Homo sapiens: one gene and its partner. The protein of the gene in region 2 purifies or fractionates together with the protein of the main gene of each other region. This does not show direct contact. Each region holds a gene or a part of one and is shown on either strand. Other genes may lie near its edges.

Region 1 (3,505 bases), on a different chromosome or scaffold from region 2:
GCATGGGGGACAGAGCGAGACTCCATCTCAAAAAAAAAAAAAAGAAAAAAAAAGAAAATGAGGCCCCTGGCCATGAAGCTGGACTTCTGAGGCTTCCTGAAGGCTTCAGAAACCCATTTACATGCCCCATGCTTGTGTTTCTCCTTAAGTAGCAGCTGGGATGATAACTTTGTTAGTATTTCTCTGAAGAGGTCTTGTTTTTACAGGCAGGTCACTGCCACAATAATGAGAGAACCTGGGACACCAACTCGAAGTCTGTTGCTCTCCATTTATCTCTGTGGATAATTAACCAATTCTTGCCATTTGAAGGTTCAATACAGGAAAGGGTTTCCAGGGAGGAACAAAATGAGCTTTTGGAAGTTAATGTAATAAAACTTCTTTGTAAATAATACCTTAAAAAAATCTCGGCCAAGTGTGGTGGCTCATGCCTGTAATCCTAGCACTTTGGGAGGCTGAGGCAGGAGGATTGCTTGAGCCCATGAGTTTGAGACCAGCCTGAGCTACATAGCAAGACTCCGTCTATATAAAAAATAAAAATAAGTTAGCTGGGTGTAGTGGCGGACATCTGTAGTTTCAGCTACCCAGGAGGCTGAGGTGGGAGGATGGCTTGAGCCCACAAGGTTGAGGTTACAGTGAACTGTGATCGTGCCACTTCATTCAGGCCTGGGTGATAGAGCAAGACCCAGTCTCTTAAAAAAAAAAAAAAAGTAAAAATAAAAAAGGCCTCTGAGTCATGTTATATTTATTTTATTCCTGTATCCTCTCACTAGCGCCCACAGTCTGTAGTTAATAAGAGAAAAGTAGTGTTAGTAGTGCATGACAGTTAATGTGCCTGGTTTGGGAAAGTCTCTTTCCACCCATGGGATACAGTGCAGCAGACACGCTCAGAGGCTGCATTGCTCAGGAGGGTTACAACTCCAGGCCAAGCTGCTGCACAGTAAGTGGCTGCCCCATAATGGTAATGGATGTCTTTACCCTTGGTGAGCCTGTTCGTGTTTGCTTTTGCAGGTCAGCGCATTGTGAATAGGCTGAGAACTTCATTATTCTCCTCCATTCTGAGGCAGGAGGTTGCTTTCTTTGACAAGACTCGCACAGGAGAATTGATTAACCGCCTCTCATCAGACACTGCACTCCTGGGGCGCTCAGTGACTGAAAACCTCTCAGATGGGCTCAGGGCCGGGGCCCAGGCTTCCGTAGGCATCAGTATGATGGTATGTGGGCCTGGTTCCCCTTGGTACCTTCCTGCCAGGGCTTGGCTTGCACCAGGCCTCTCACGTGTGAGACGAGCTCAAGCTGAGCGGTTCGCATCATTCTGTAAGTGCCTAGAGCCAAAAGTGCTGTTGCAGAAGCTGCTGGAACGTGGGGATTGCCTCTGCCTGCATGGCCTCTTGTACCTTCATTTCTCCAGAATGAGTGATTATCTGGAAAATGGACTCATGTGTTACTGCTGGGTATTCTGAGATGTGTGTACCCGGGGTATTAAGGCAGAAAAGAGCATCAGGTAGAAGGAGCACTGGGTACTACCCTGTGGGTGGCACCAAGCGGTGACTAAATTCCATTCCTCTGTGTGTGTAAGTCGAACTGTGCTCTTTTAAGGGGAGAGCTCTTCACTCCCATGGCCTTTTTTCCTTTCCTTAACTGGGTGGCTTGTGCCTGTCCTGTCTGCTTGCCTTACCTCTTCAACCAGTATTTCTATTCAGCCCAGTGCTGCAGGTCATTGGAGAGGCAATGCAAGCCACATATGTGATTTTAATGTTTTAGTAGCCACATTTAAAAAAGCAAAAAGAAGCCAATGAGATTAATTTTTTTTTTAATTTTAATTTTTTTAGAGACAGTCTCACTCTGTTACCCAGGCTGGAGTACAGTGGCAAGATCATAGCTCACTGCAGTCTTAAACTCCTGGGCTCAAGTGATTCTCCCACCTCAGTCTCCCAAGTATCTGGGACTACAGGCACACACCACCAAGTCTGGCTAATTTAAAGAATATATATATATATTTTTTGTAGAGGCAGGGTCTCTCTATGTTGCCCAGGCTGGTCTCAAACTCTTGGCCTCAAGTGATCCTCCTGCCTCGGCCTCCTGAAGTGCTGGGATTACAGGCTTGAGCCACTGTACCTGGCTGAGATTAATTTTAATAATGTTTTGTTTAAGCCAGTATAAACAAAATATTGTCATCTCAAGATGTAATTAATATCAAAATTATTAATGAGGTATTTTATATTATTTCTTTCATATTATAGTTGACCCTTGAACAATGCAGGGGTTGGGACACTGAAGCCCACACAGTCAAAAATCAAAGTATAACTTTTGACTCCCTAAAAACTCAACTACTAATAGCCTACTGTTGACCAGAAGCCTTACTGATAACATTAACAGTCAATTACCATGTATTTGGTATATGTATTATATACTATGTTCTTATAACAGAGTAAGCTAGAAAAAAGAAATGGTATTAAGAAAATCATAAGGAAGGTAAAATATATTTATTATTTATTAAGTGGAAGTGGATCATCATAAAAGCTTTTTTTTTTTTTTTTTGAGACGGAGTATCGCACTGTCATCCGGGCTGAAGTGCAATGGCACGATCTTGGCTCACTGCAACCTCCTCCTCCCGGGTTCAAGTGATTCTCCTGCCTCAGCCTCCCGAGTAGCTGGGATTATAGGTGCCAGCCACCACGCCTCGCTAATTTTTTTGTATTTTTAGTAGAGATGGGGTTTCACTATGTTGGCCAGGCTGGTCTTGAACTCCTGACCTCGTGATCTGCCTGCCTCAGCCTCCCAAAGTGTTGGGATTGCTGGCGTGAGCCACTGCGCCCGGCTCATCACAAAAGTATTTATCCTCATTGTCTTCACACTGAGTAGACTGAGAGGAGGAAGAAAGGTTGTTCTTGCTGTCTCAGGGGTGGCAGAGATGGAAGAAAATCTATGTATAAGTTGACCCATGCATTTCAGACCAATGTTGTTCAAAGGTCAACTGAATTTCCAAATCTGGTGTGTATTCTCTACTTAAGGAACATCTTAATTCGGATGCTAAATTTTCATTGAAAGTACTTGATCTATATTTAGATTTTATAAAATGTACAATTGAAAAAGTAGTTTGACATACTCAAGTTTTCCAGACATACTTAATAGTTTGCCAATAACTGAATGGAGTATAGGCTTTTAAATTTTAATTAAACCTAAATACAATTAAAAAGTCAATGTCTCAGTCATACCTGCCACATTTCAAGTTTCCAGTAGGGCTATCGTTTTGGGCAGTGCAGTTCTAGACTCGTGGAATAAGAACTGTAAATAATCCTTTCTCACAAGTGGAAAAGCTTGGATTCTGTCCTTTGTGTCCCATGAAGCACTTAGAGAGGAAGGGTGTGTTGCCTATTAGATCTGACTTACGGAATGAAAAACAGCTTTGAAATCTCATGATTTTCCAGCTAAGAGAGAAGCAAACCTCTGGAAGAGGACCCTTCCTGCACTAACATGCCGTTTTCCAAATATGAATAGTTTTGGG
Region 2 (3,505 bases):
CAGAGGGCGCCACAGAGCAGGGAAAACTTCTCCAAGGAGGGTCTACTTAAGATAGTTGTCATTTAAAGACTGGGAAATCACCATAAGAGCAGAAGGACAAGCATTCCATGCAGAGGAAGTGTCAGGTGTGACAGCCTTAAGGTGGAAGGAGTTTGTGTGTGTGCTGAGAGCATAGAGCAGGGTGGCTGCAGGGTGGTGATTGAGGCGGTTAACAGAAATTTGGAGAGGGAGGGAGGACCAGATCATGTGGCGCCCTGTAAGCCACAGTAAGGAGTTGGAACATTCAAAGACATTGGGCCACAAGTGGTGGCTCATGCCTGTAATCCCACCACTTTGGGAGGCCGAGGTGGGAGGACCACTTGAGCCCAGGAGTTTGAGAACAGCCTGGCCAACATGGCGAAACCCCATCTCTACAAAAAATATAAAAATTAGCCGGGTTGTGGTGGCATGCACCTGTAGTCCCATCTACTTGGGAGGCTGAGGTGGGAGGAAGGCTTGAGCCCAGGAGGCAAACGTTGCAGCGAGCCAAGATTGCACCACCGCACTCGAGCCTGTCTCAAAACAAACAAACAAAATAGAAGTTTTCAAACACAAGAGCATCATGGTCTCATTTATGTCTAGAAAACATGTATCAGGCTGCTGTGGCAGGGAAAAAAGTAGAAGTGAGGAGGCCACTGTGGTTGCCGTGAGCAGAGATGACAGGGCTGGACCAGCACAATGTCTACAGTGATTGAAAGAAGTGGACACAGGCTGGGCACGGTGGCTCACACCTGTAATCCCAGCACTTTGGCAGTCTGAGGGGGTGGATTGCTTGAGCCCAGGAGTTCAAGGCCAGCCTGGGCAGCATGGCAAAACCCAGTCTCTATAAAAAATTAGCCGGGTGTGGTGATGCACCCCTGTGGTCCCAGCTACTTGGGAGGCTGAGGCGGCAGGATGGCCTGAGCTTGGAAGGTTGAGGCTGCAGTGAGCCGTGATCACACCACTGCACTCCAGCCTGGGAAAGAGTGAGAATCTGTCTCAAACAACAACAACAACACAGCCAAGACATTTTTGTTCTTTTTGAGACAAGGTCTCACTCGATCACCCAGGCTGGAGTGCAGTGATGTGATCCTGGCTCATTGCAACCTCTGCCTCCCGGGCTCAAGCAGTCCTCCCACCTCAGCCTCCCAAGTAGCTGAAACTACAGGTGCACACCACCGTGCCTGACTAATTTTTGTATTTTTTGGTAGAGACAAAGTCTTGCTAAGTTGCCCAGGCTGGTCTCAAACTCCTGAGCTCAAGTGATCTGCCTGCCTCAGTCTCCCAAAGTGCCAGGATTACAGGCATGAGCCACTGTGCCCAGCCAGCAAGAATATGTTGATGCAGTAAAAATAATAGGACACCCCAAAAATAGAAAGAAAAGGTAGGATTACTTATAGACCAGATGAGAGGAATGAAGAAGAGGAGGAAATCAAAACTGAGAAAAGAACAGACTATGTCAAGGAGGGAATCAGCTCAATACTCCACGTGTTAAGTTAGGGATGTCTGTGGAGCACCCACGCTGAAATGGAAGCGAAGCAGTTGGATCTACAGAGTCTGGAGCTCAGAGGAGAGGTCTGGGCTGTCCATATAAATTTGGATTTAGTACATTCTAGTTTTTGAAGTACTTATTCAGTTTTACATTTCTAAGAATGTGTTAGATTTTGATAAAACAAGAATGAGTCAGTAAAATGTGCTAGTTTTTGATTTATCAAATACTTCTAGGGTAAGGGGAAGAAAGGTTATCTGTACAGTGTTCTGCTTTTAAATAGCTAAGATGACATATAAACATATCCCTCCAAACTTTTTTTTTTCTGAGACGGGAGTCTCACTCTGTTGCCCAGGCTGGAGTGCAGTGGCGTGATCTCAGCTCACTGCAACCTCTGCCTCCCGGGTTCAAGTGATTCTCCTGCCTCAGCCTTCCAAGTAGCTGGGACTACAGGCACAAACCACCATACCCAGCTAATTTTTGTATTTTTAGTAGAGACAGGGTTTCACCATGTTGATCAGGCTGGTCTCAAACTCCCGAACTCAAATGATCTGCCCACCTCAGCCTCCCAAAGTGCTGGGATTACAGGTGTGAGCCACTGTGCCCGGCCTAAACCTGGAATTTTTTGGAGTTTCACTCTCGTCGCCCAGGCTGGAGTGCAGTGGCGTGATATCGGCTCACTGCAACCTCTGTCTGCCGGGTACAAGTGATTCTCCAGCCTCAGTCTCCCGAGTAGCTAGGATTACAGGTGCCTGCCACCACACTCAGCTAATTTTTGTATTTTTAGTAGAGACAGGGTTTCACCGTGTTGGCCAGGCTGGTCTCGAACTGCTGACCTCAGGTGATCCACCCGCCTCGGCCTCCCAAAGTGCTGGGATTACAGGCGTGAGCCACCGCCCCCAGCCAACCTGGAATTTTTTTAAGGGAACATTTCAAACAGGGCTAGGGCAAATAGAATAAACCACAACTGTGAAACTTAAAGTTTTCAGTTGTAACTTTTCTCAAAAGACAAATGGTGTTTTAGTATCACAAAGAAGTAAATAATTTTCTATTTCCCTCTAATTTTTTCTATTGCTTTTCTGCTAGTTTCTCTTTCATAAAAACTTTTATAATGCTGTTTGTTTTTTAAGAAAGAAAATTGTAGTCCTTGGGAAAGGTGTAATGTAGTGATTGGCAGCAATGAAGGTAAAAACTTGACCCAACACATATAATGAGATTTTTTTTTTTCTTTTTCTTTTCTTGTTTTTTGAGGAAGGGTCTCACTGCCACCCAGGTGGGAGTGCAATAGTGCGATCATGGCTCACTATAGCCTCAACCTCCTGGGCTCAGGTGATCCTCCCATTTCAGCCTCCCAAGAAGCAGGGACTACAGGCATGTGCCAACACTCTTGTCCAATTTTTTGGTGTTTTTTCTAGAGATGGGGTTTCATCATGTTTCCAAGGCTGGTCTCAAACTCCTGGGCTCAAGTGATCCACCTGCCTTGGCCTCCCAAAGTGCTAGGATTATAGGCGTTAGCTACTGTGCCTGGCCAAGATTTCTCATAGTCAAAGAATACTTGTTGGTAAACCTCACTTTACAAAAGAGAAGAAATGTGTCTTCCTCTAACTTTGAACATGCTTTAGCATTACTTACAGATCTGGGTTGCCCTGAGAATCTCCGGTTATAATCATTAATATCCTGATGCAATCTCAGAACATCCTGAGACTGATCATCTTCACCAAATACTGTTAGGAGTAAGGTTACCTGTATATTACAGAAAAAAAAATTATTTCAACTTTCTGCATCATTATGTTTTTTTCATTTTGTGTTATTATTCAATAGAATGATAAAGGCTTCTATATTTATATTTCACTCATTTTTAAATAAAGGCAACCTGGGGGAGGGGAGTAAGTAACTGCTTTGCAATAAAATCCAATGCAACATAGAATTTGAACTCCTATAAAATAGACACCATATCCAACTACTGGCCTAATATTTTCCTGTCCACACCAGGGGTAA

What was found. Proteins that work in one complex are often made in the same cells at the same time.
Region 1: the proteins of RNF170 (region 2) and ABCB10 purify together in Homo sapiens (affinity purification with mass spectrometry; 2 studies listed by BioGRID and IntAct, with this or other methods). This does not show direct contact.

The regions. Positions count from the first base shown.
Region 1 is NC_000001.11:229,545,205-229,548,709, reverse strand, and holds part of ABCB10 (ATP-binding cassette sub-family B member 10, mitochondrial), read left to right. Parts: intron 1-1,008; coding exon 1,009-1,211; intron 1,212-3,505.
Region 2 is NC_000008.11:42,858,606-42,862,110, forward strand, and holds part of RNF170 (E3 ubiquitin-protein ligase RNF170), read right to left. Parts: intron 3,251-3,505; coding exon 3,140-3,250; intron 1-3,139. UniProt on the Homo sapiens protein: E3 ubiquitin-protein ligase that plays an essential role in stimulus-induced inositol 1,4,5-trisphosphate receptor type 1 (ITPR1) ubiquitination and degradation via the endoplasmic reticulum-associated degradation (ERAD) pathway.